Linked DNA regions of Homo sapiens: region 1 is linked to region 2. Evidence: fine-mapped expression QTL. A gene starts in region 2. The other region holds a variant in brackets. All regions are shown on one strand. Distances are from middle to middle.

Evidence for each region. PIP is the estimated chance that this variant, and not a neighbour inherited with it, causes the effect.
Region 1: its variant is the best candidate, but not a certain one, in a credible set for the expression of L3MBTL2-AS1 in esophagus mucosa (GTEx, PIP 0.68).

Annotation. Positions count from the first base shown.
Region 1 is chr22:41,171,007-41,176,349 of GRCh38, forward strand. EP300 (EP300 lysine acetyltransferase) reads left to right here. Exons shown (of 31, transcript NM_001429.4): 28 at 1,493-1,657; 29 at 2,617-2,778; 30 at 5,241-5,343. Among named protein-coding and RNA genes, the nearest start is that of EP300-AS1, 24 kb to the right of the region's middle. The variant T/C (reference allele first, on the strand shown) is at 3,061.
Region 2 is chr22:41,215,210-41,220,583 of GRCh38, forward strand. L3MBTL2-AS1 (L3MBTL2 antisense RNA 1) reads right to left here and starts at 2,418. Exons shown (of 3, transcript NR_148200.1): 1 at 1,823-2,418. It overlaps L3MBTL2 (L3MBTL histone methyl-lysine binding protein 2), which reads left to right. Exons shown (of 17, transcript NM_031488.5): 4 at 930-1,053; 5 at 1,914-1,993; 6 at 4,210-4,327. RefSeq lists enhancers at 2,592-3,289, 3,290-3,986.

The DNA.
Region 1 (5,343 bases), 44 kb before region 2:
TGCATGTAATTCCTAAAAATGCTAATTTGATTGCTTTTATTTTGTATATTCAAAATTTTTCAATATAAGAAAAACCAGGTTTTGAAGAGCGGTAGATCAAGAAATCCCTGTTTTAAACATGTAACCAAAATTTTATTTTATTTATTTTTGGGGGGAGGGTGGGGATAGAGTTGGGGTATCGCCATGCTGCCCAGGCTGGACTTGAACTCTTGGCCTCAAGCATTCCAAAGTGCTGGGATTACAGGCATGAGCCACTGTGCCCGGCCTTAAAATATATCTTTTTGTTTTGGTTTTTTGTTGGTTTGGTTTGGGTTGGTTAGGGTTTTAGGGGTGTGGGTGTTTTGTTTTCAGAAAGGGTCACTCTCTGTCACCCAGGCTAGGGTGCAGTGGCATGATACCCGCTCATTGCAACCTGTGCCTCCCAGGCTCAAGCCATCCTCCCATCTCAGCTTCCTGAGTTGCTGGGACTAGGTGCACACTACGAGAGCTAGCTGATTTTTGTATATTTTTTGTAGAGACAGGATGTCACCATGTTGCCCAGGCTGGTCTCAAACTCCTGAGCTCAAGTGATCTGCCCACCTCAGCCTCCCAAAGTGCTAGGATTATAGGCATGAGCCACATCACCCAGCCAAAAATATATTCTCCCTTTTTTTTTTTTGGACGGAGTTTCAGGCTGGAGTGCAATGGTGCAGTCTCCTGGGTTCAAGTGATGGTCCTACCTCAGCCTCCCGAGTAGCTGGGATTACAGGCATGCACCACCAAGCCAGGCTAATTTTTTCTATTTTTAGTAGAGACGGGGTTTCTCCACATTGGTCAGGCTGGTCTCGAACTCCTGACCTCAGGTGATCCACCTGCCTCGGCCTCCCAAAGTGCTGGGATTACAGGTGTGAGTCACTGCACCTGGCCAAAAATATATTCTTAATTAACAGTATTATGTTATTCATAAATATAGGTTGTCTCATGATACAGACTTGTCTTCCTCAATTTAGTAGTTCAACTAAATAAAGAAGTTTTCCTAAGCAGCCCAGCAAATCATTCTGCAGCAGATACTATTTCCAGTATTTGTAGTTTTGGTCATTTTGAACAAAGCTGTCAGTAAAAGCTGCTGAAATTCCAAGGATGGGTGTGAGGAGGGCATGCTTCATACCACATATTCTGTGATAAGGAGTGGTAGGGGCCATGGCATGCATGATGGTGCTACCACCCTGACGTTGATCCTGGCAGGATAATTGCCACTTGGTTATATAAAGGCAGATAAGCTCCCTGTTTTTGTGGGTAGAAGAAATAGAAAACCGGAAATATTGACTTTAGGCCAGGCCTTTTCACTATTTATTTTTCTAAATACTCCCTGGCTTACGGCTTAGGTATAAAGTCTCTGCCAGCTTTCAAGACATTTTAAGCTTTCATGTTTCTTGTCAGCCATGATTATTCTGTATAATCAATGCTTTAAAAGAACATAGAAATTCCTATATGTACATGCATGTTTTCACAGGATATTTTTAAACAAGCTACTGAAGATAGATTAACAAGTGCAAAGGAATTGCCTTATTTCGAGGGTGATTTCTGGCCCAATGTTCTGGAAGAAAGCATTAAGGAACTGGAACAGGAGGAAGAAGAGAGAAAACGAGAGGAAAACACCAGCAATGAAAGCACAGATGTAAGGGCATTGAGTTTCCTTTGAAACTTCTATCATGATTCTAATATTTAATCCAGAAGTGCACTTAAACTTTCAATTGGGTTTTAAAGCTTTCAGGTGTAAAAGAGCTCTTTAAGTTGGACAAGAAATATTGGCTTAGAGAGGTTATTAGGGTTCTGTTTCAGTGGTATTAAACTTTTAAAGCATCAGAGCCCCTTTTAAAATGGCATCTCAGACTTTGAGTAATGTGAAATGATAAAAGAAACTGAAGGAAATCCTGAAAAACTGATAGAAGATTACTTATCTGAAGGACTAGGTTATGAATATTATAGGCCTTGTGGGTCACATATCTCTGGCATATTTTCTGTCTTTTAAAAACACACTCTTTTTAAATGTAAAAAACCATTCTTAGCTATACAAAATAGGCCTGAGCCAGAATTTAAGTTACTAAGCCTGGCTTAGTAACCTCACCAGTTATTTCCCCATAGCATATCTCGAATTACCTCCATTGAATTTAACTTAACAAAAGGCACCCTTAAATAGTCTGTTAACAAACTCTTACAGCCTTGTCATTTAGTATTTGTAGGCTCATAACATTTTAGAATATGAGTGGAAGGAAATAAAACCAAGGTCTTCTGGCTCCCCACTTTGATACACTCTTCACTACCCCAAAGTGCCACCCCTTCCTTGTTCCCTAGCCCCAATCTGGGATACATTCAATCAATCTACAGGGTCTGCACATTCTGTGGCCTCTTCTAGGCAAAAAGCTAAAGGGCTGCCATTGCCTTAAAGATCACTGGGAGAAAATTAGGTCAAATAACAACTTTAAGGAGAAAGAATAAGTGAAGAGAACAGCTAGTAAAATAAGTTACAGGCATAAGATTATGATATCTAGTTTCAAAGAAGGGAGATATTCTGTGCTATTCCCAAATTACTTAACAAAAACCTTATTTTCTTGTCTCCTTTGTGCTACTCTGCAGGTGACCAAGGGAGACAGCAAAAATGCTAAAAAGAAGAATAATAAGAAAACCAGCAAAAATAAGAGCAGCCTGAGTAGGGGCAACAAGAAGAAACCCGGGATGCCCAATGTATCTAACGACCTCTCACAGAAACTATATGCCACCATGGAGAAGCATAAAGAGGTAAGATGCAGCCACCCAGAGTTGGGGAAAAACGGCAAGATTTCTGGCCAGGCATGGTGGCTCACACCTGTAATCCCAGCACTTTGGGAGGCCAAGGCGGGTGGATCACCTGAGGTCAGGAGTTCAAGACCAGCCTGACCAACACGGTGAAACCTTGCTCTACTAAAAATACAAAATTAGCTGGGCATGGTGGCACATGCCTGTAATCCCAGCTACTCAGGAGGCTGAGGCAGGAGAATTGCTTGAACCTGAGAAGCGGAGATTGCAGTGAGCCGAGGTCAC[T/C]CCATTGCACTCCAGCCTGGGCAACAAGAGCGAAACTCCACCTCAGAAAAAGAAATAAGAAATGAATAAAAACACTGACTGTTCGCTGGGCGTGGTGGCTCATGCCTGTAATCCCAGCACTTTGGAGGTTGAGGCAGGCGGATCACTTGAGGTCAGGAGTTGGAGACCAGCCTGGCCAACATGGCGAACCGAAACCCCGTCTCTACTAAAAATACAAAAATTAGCCTGGCGTGGTGGCACACACCTGTAATCCTTGGGATGCTGGGGTGGGAGGATCACTTGAACCTGGGAGGCAGAGGTTGCAGTGCACTTACAGCCTGGGTGACAGAACGAGACTCTGTTTCAAAAAATAAAAAGATTTAACCTTTCTGAAAGTGAATTAGTAAATAGAATTGGAGAAAAGTTAAACTTCCACATATGGACTTACAACCCCCTTCTCAAAACTTTTTGAGTTATTTCATCATTTACATTGTTTAGTTGTTCTTGCAGTCATTTGGGAAAATAACTGGGTAAGGTTTTTTTTTTCTCTCTTTAATATCATATAATTGATAACGAAAGCCAGGAGAATTGAAGAGTAATTCCTCTCAGGGTTTGTCCAATGGTAGTAATCTCGATTGTTCAGTCAGACTCCTCATTTTACTATCTCGGTTCTCAGACATATAATCAAGTTCTTATAGGAAGTGGTAATTAAGTTGAGAGGGAAATGAAGGCTTGATTTCAGGTTGTAATTCCGTACCTAAAAATTGGTTAAACAGTCTCTTTGGGAGAGAAATAGTTAACAAAATCTTTTTTAGAGAGGAATTTGTTATAATGATGTTATCATGGTGAACACCTATATACATAGGTGTTCAAAGTATCTTTTCCCCCACTGCTCCCCCCATCACCACCCCTTTTTTGTTAGCCTAGAATAATGGGCTACGATGTAATAATGGTAATAACCATTATCTCAGCCATGCTAGTGAAATGGAAGGATTCCTGAGTTCTAATACGTTAGGTAATGATTATTAACAATTAATAGTTACTAGCTATTTCAAGCAGTAAGTAATGCCACAGAATCCTAGGCAGTTGGGAAAAGCCCTTAGAATATATTGTAATAGGTTTGACTTAAATTGTGGACACATTCCATGGCTGTTTAAATTTAGGTTGTAAATCCAAGTATTGGCCTGGTTGTAGGGTGACAGAAGCAGCGAACATTGCTGGCCAGAGACTGTGAGTGTGGCTGCCAGTGTGCACAGATGTTGAATAATCTGTTATCAGTACAGCAGTTTCTCACAAGTTCCTAATTTCTTAAGGGGATGTTTTACATTTTATTACTTTAATAGGTGTTTATAGTTATATACTAATTAATGTCAAATACATATGTAATACCAGCTTTTTATACCTTTTACACTAATGGTTATGAGAATTGATGGTTGTTACAAGTTTTTTCAAACTTCAATGAACAAGAATTTTATTGCTTTGTCAACAAAGACTAAGATTTTTTATCCATTCCATTCCCTTCCAAACCTGTAGGAAAAGTTACACAGGAAAGTTGCATAGGGGACCTTCATGAGTCCAGGCCAGTTGTTTTTCATACTGTCTCCATATTTGGATTTGTCTGGTTTGTTGTAATTAGATTGAGGTTAAACCATGGATTGCATCTTAAAGTAGACTGCCTTGAGGCAAAATGTCCACTGTGCATGGTGCTATACCTCACCCAGACCATTGTTACTCTGAAGGAGTTACTGAATGAAGGAGAAAAAAATCACAGGATGTGCATTTCAGTTCTATTTATAGTCAGTCTCAAGAGACCAAAGAGGTAAAGCAGGAAAAGGAACAGGAGGCGTATGGTGGTGAAACTAACTCAGCATTCGCCAGTCTCATTGGTGCTCAGCCTGCTGTACCTGCTCACACCTGTAATCCCAGCACTCTGGGAGGCTGAGGCAGGCAGATCACTTGAGCTTAGGAGTTTGAGACCAGCCTGGGCAACATGGCGAAGCCTCGTCTCTACAAAAAATGCAGAAATTAGCCAGGTGTGGTGGTGTGGGCCTGTGGTCTCAGCTATTCAGGAGGCCATGGTGGGATAATTGCTTGAGCCCAGGAGGCAGAGGTTGTAGTGAGCCAAGATCACGCCACTGCATTCCAGCCTGGATGACAGAGCGAGGCCCTGTCTCAAAAAAAAGAGACTGTCTGTTTTTCAGGTCTTCTTTGTGATCCGCCTCATTGCTGGCCCTGCTGCCAACTCCCTGCCTCCCATTGTTGATCCTGATCCTCTCATCCCCTGCGATCTGATGGATGGTCGGG
Region 2 (5,374 bases):
TGTTTCCCCATTTTGTAGATTTTACTTAAGGCACCGAAAGATCCCTCTCTTCCGAGAGCTAAGAATAATATTGGTAATATTAATAGCTATGGTTTGGGAGTACTTGCTAAGGGCTTGACATTCTCAGTCCAATTAACGATCTTAAAAAATTTGATTTTTAAAAAAATTCCTTTTTATAAAGGCTCAGAAATTTTAGTAACTTACTTAAAGGTATACAACTAAAAACTGTAGAACTGGGATTTGCCCTGTAGGTTTGTTTGGGACTTAAACCCAGATTTCTGCTTCACTGATCTCTTTAGTAAATTCCTGGCCTTCCTGTTCAGTACTTAAGTTACAAAATACAGACCAGATCAGTGGCCATTCCCTTTGGAAAGGGAGGACCCCCTTTGAGTACCTAATGAAAGCTGTGGGTCCTCTCCCAAACATTCGCCTATGTGGACCCTCTCCCGAACATTCGCCTATGTGGACCCTCTCCCGAACATTCGCCTATGTGGACCCTCTCCCGAACATTCGCCTATGTGGACCCTCTCCCAAACATTCGCGTATGTACAGAAGGTTGCCTCCCAGTTCATGAGCGTTTCTGGGCCCCTGTGAGGCCCATTCTTTGCTTTGGATCTATCAGTAGCGACACTGGAGGAAGGAGATGACTGAGACTTGAATCTGGGAGGACAGAAAGGCTTAAAAGATAGAACATGGGTCTCTCCCTGCTCTGCAGCACTGCCTAGCACCCCCTAGCACCCCCGACGCTTCCCCACAACCACCCCCTGAGCTCAGGATTGTTATTGTCATCACTGTTTCACACATGAAGAAACTGAAGCCCAAAAGAGGTTAAGTCACTGGCCCAAGCCCAGGACTTCAACTTGGCGGCCCAAATCCAGACTCATGATCCCAGCCGCCAGGCTACACATAGCCTCTGTCCTCCTCTCCAGGGAAAACCACCGACCAAAAAAGCCAAAGTCCTGCACAAGGCTGCCTGGTCTGCCAAAATTGGAGCCTTCCTCCACTCTCAAGGGACAGGACAGCTGGCAGATGGGACACCAACAGGACAAGACGGTAAGATAGCAGAGGGCCCTGCTTAGGAAGCTGCCGTGGCTGGGGAGGAGACTGGGTTTGGGGTGGCCTTTCCTAGGAATGAAGACTGGGCAAACCGGCCAGGTAGAAAGTGCCCTAAGTCAGGGTCACTGCGGATTGCATCTTCCTCACCTGTTGGGTATTGTGGAAATTACCCAGAAAAATGCCTTCAAACACCCTTAAATTATCAGGACTCCTACCCATGATAATTCAAAAGCCAAGAATTGGCTGTTTTTGTTTCTCTTTGCTTTTATCCTTTTGGTTTCTGTTTCCCTGGGGCAACGAAGGCCCAGATATGGTTTGAAGGCAGGTTTGGAGAGGGGTGGTGGGATAAGGAAAGGAGCCTCTCTCTGAGTGTGTAGCAATTGCTAAGCAAGTTAAATGTATGCATAAAGCAACTCTGCTATCATTGTTCTGAGTTTCTAACTGAAATTGAGCTCAGCAGGCCGGAGCTCAGTTGGAGGGGCCCTGGTGTGTGCGCACCCCCTCCCCCACATTTAGATTGGGTGTGGCCAATCAGGTTCAGGGCGGAGGGAGGAATTTAAGCCCAGGGATATTTCAGTTTTCCCCTTTGGGGGAAGAAGGGCGAGAAATTTCCCTTTGAATGTTCCTCTACTCCTGAGAGTCTTGCCACCTTTCAATTCAGTCCTCAACAGTGGTCCCTCATGGCCACTGGTGGATCAGGTATGGGAGTGAAGGAGGGTGTCGTGGGCAGCGCTGTGAGAGGGGCTGCTGGGGGTGGGGGACCTACCTCTGCAGGTCCCACAGGGCCCTTGGGGTCCAGGCTCCTGGAGTGGCTGCTGCGCAGGCTCCTAGTCTGACTCGTCCTCTCTGCTCTGCAGCTCTGGTCTTGGGCTTCGACTGGGGGAAGTTCCTGAAGGATCACAGTTACAAGGCTGCTCCCGTCAGCTGTTTCAAGCACGTGAGTGCCCTGGAGCTGAGGGAGGGAGGCCGGGGAGCCGGGCCTGGAGCTGCTCCTCCACCTGCTTCACCAGGGCGGCTTCAGGCTGGACAGTGACAGTGGGGAGGTCTGGGCAGGAGACGGATGGCGTTACCACTCGCTCCATTTCATGTTTATGTCAAAAAAATCCTCCTACAAACACTTCTATCACCTGCTTGGCTTCACTCCCGGTCTGAAGCCCTTCAGTTTATTTACATGATGGAACTTGGTGCTAGCTGATGTCGAAGGGTCTTTGCAGTCTGAAACCCTTCTCTCCTTTCTCCCCCATTTGCAGCATTTTCCCATGGAAAGCAGGGTGCTTCTGTAGCTGGCCTGGGCCCCGTGGGCCCCGAGAGGCAGATGTGGATGCTCCTGGAGCCACTTCTGTAAAAGGCTCCTCGATGCGGATCATGTAAAAGCCAGAACGAAGGGCAAGGCCCTTAGGGGCGGGGCTTGAGCGCAAGAACCGAATATCCAGCAGCTGTGACGTGTGGAGCCTGCAGGCCGGGAGAGCAGAGCCCACAACAGCACTCTTGTTTTGTCTTCACACCACGTCCCTAAGCTCCGGGAAATCCAGGAGGAGGCCTCTTTAGTCTTGAGGAAGTAGGGAGTCTTTTACCCAGAGTAAGCCACTTCCTCTCCTCCTTTCAGAACTGCCACTGAACTCTGGGGAGTGCCCTGAACAATGACAGCTGCTTCTTGACTCAGCTAACTCACTCCTCTCGTCTCTGAATGGCTAATGAAGGTGCACCTCCTTCCTGCTGGAGGGGGAGCCTCTTTTTTGCCCTGAATTCTCTAATAGTTTCAGCATTTTCATTTCCAGGGAGTTGCATCATCCTTGTGTCTAACACATATAATCCAATTTGCTTTGTAAAAAGCCTGCCCCTGCGTGCCTGGGCTAGCGCAACTGTGTCCGGGTTCTGTGATGAACTAAACTCAAGTGACCAGGGAGATGGAATGGGATACCTCAACTGGCTGAAGCCAGGGCTGAGAATAAAAAAGGTGAATTTGGCCAGGCGCAGTGGCTTACCCCTATAATCCCAGCACTTTGGGAGGCCGAGGCGGGTGGATCACCTGAGGTGAGGAGTTCGAGACCAGCCTGGCCAACATGGTGAAACCCCATCTCTACTAAAAATACAAAAATTAGCTGGAAGTGGTGGCAGGCACCTGTAATCCCAGCTACTTGGGAGGCCGAGACAGGAGAATCCCTTGAACCTGAGAGGCGGAGGTTGTAATGAGCTGAGATTGCGCCACTGCACTCCAGCCTGGGTGACGGAGCAAGACTCTAAAAAAAGTGATTCTCCCAAAGGAGAATCAAAAGTACCATTGGCAGGAAAGTGAGGATTAGGTACTGGGAAGGCAACTGAAACAGTCCAGTGCTGTCCTGGGGCACTTTATTTTATTTTATTTATTTTTTCGATATGGGAGTTTCACTCTTGTTGCCCAGAGCTGGAGTGCAATGGCACTATCTCAGCTCACAGCAGCCTCCCCCTCCCAGGTTCAAGCGATTCTCCTGCCTCAGCCTCCGGAGTAGCTGGGATTACAGGCATGTGCCACCACCACGCCCGGCTAATTTTGTATTTTTAGTAGAGACATGGATTCTCCATGTTGGTCAGGCTGGTCTCGAACTCCCAGCCTCAGGTGATCCGCCCGTCTCGGCCTCCCAAAGTGCTGGGATTACAGGCGTGAGCCACCATGCCTGGCCCCCTGGAGCATTTCAGTAGGAGGGGAGGTAGAGAGTAAACTTGCAGGTGGATGGCTGTGTGTAAACAAGGGGGTCATAATGCCCACAGCCCAGGTTTGTATGATGATTGAAGGAAAGTATATTTGTGCTAATATCAGCGCCCTGCCATTGCTCGGGCTGGCACAGGGACGAAGGGATCGAGGCTCACCAAGGCATCATGTGCCCAAAATGATACAGTAAGAAACCAGTCCTATAAAGATTTTAGGACTCGGTTCTGTCTGACTCTGGGTCTCTAGCCATCACCCTGCATCCCACCACCTCCACCTCTACTCCCGGCTTAGCTCTTCAAGGACAGGAGACCTCATCTCTTTATCTCTAGTAGCTGGTTCTGCACACAGTGGGTGATGTGAAAAGTTGAGGTGCAAACGAGGACTTGACTGAGGCCGTGAGGCAGTCTGTCTCCCCTGCTAGCACAGTTAGCTCACTCTCTCGGTACACTCTCATCGCCACACAGGTCCCACTCTATGACCAGTGGGAGGATGTGATGAAAGGGATGAAGGTGGAGGTGCTCAACAGTGATGCTGTGCTCCCCAGCCGGGTGTACTGGATCGCCTCTGTCATCCAGACAGCAGGTGAGTGTTTGGCCAGGGCAGGGCCAGGGATGTGTCTGCAGAGTGACATCTCTAGATGGGTGAACAGTGTTGTAGGCAGGAGTTGGCTTCATAAAACAAAAATCCCACCCACTGGAATTTTTGCCCCACTTCTAAGGATTCTTTTACCGGAGAAGGGAACACAGAGCTTGGCAGGCTTGGAAACCCCAAATTTTTTTGTTTGTTTTTGTTATTTTGTTTTTTTTAGATGGTGTCTTGCTCTGTCACCCAGGCTGGAGTACGGTGGCACGATCTCGGCTCACTGCAACCTCCACCTCCTGGGTTCAAGCGATTCTCCTGCCTCAGCCTCCCGAATAGCTGGGACTACAGGCCACCTGGCCACCACACACGGCTAATGTTTGTATTTTTAGTAGAGACGGGGTTTCACTATCTTGGCCAGGCTGGTCTCAAACTCCTGACCTCAGGTGATCCTCTGCATCCCAAAGTGCTGGGATTATAGGCGTGAGCCACCGTGCCTGGCTGGAAACCCCAATTTTTAAAGTTTGTTCCAGGGCCAGGTTTCGTGGCTCACACCTCTAATCCCAGCACTTTGGAGGCAGAGGCAGGAGGATTGTTTGAGCTCAGGAGTTCGAGACCAGACGGGGCAATATAGTGAGATACTGTCTCTATAAAAAATGAAAAAATTTAAAAAGTAAAATTCATTCCAAGGATGATCAGGTTATAGAGAATTAACTCTCAGCACCATTCCATAATGCTTTCCGAACTAGGAGCATGAATTTGTTTGGCTAGGACTGTTGTGGACAACAGGAATCCACTTGCCTGGAAGTATAGGTGCCAGAAGTCCAGCTTAGGCTAGAGAAAAGAGAAGGCTTAAGAACATACCTTCCCCAAGCTAGGCCCGGTGGCTCACGCCTGTAATCCCAGCACTTTGGGAGGCCGAGGAGGGCAGATCACGAGGTCGGGAGATCGAGACCATCCTGGCTAACACGGTGAAACCCCGTCTCTATTTAAAATACAAAAAAAAATCAGCCGGGCGTGGTGGCAGGCGCCTGTAGTTCCAGCTACTCT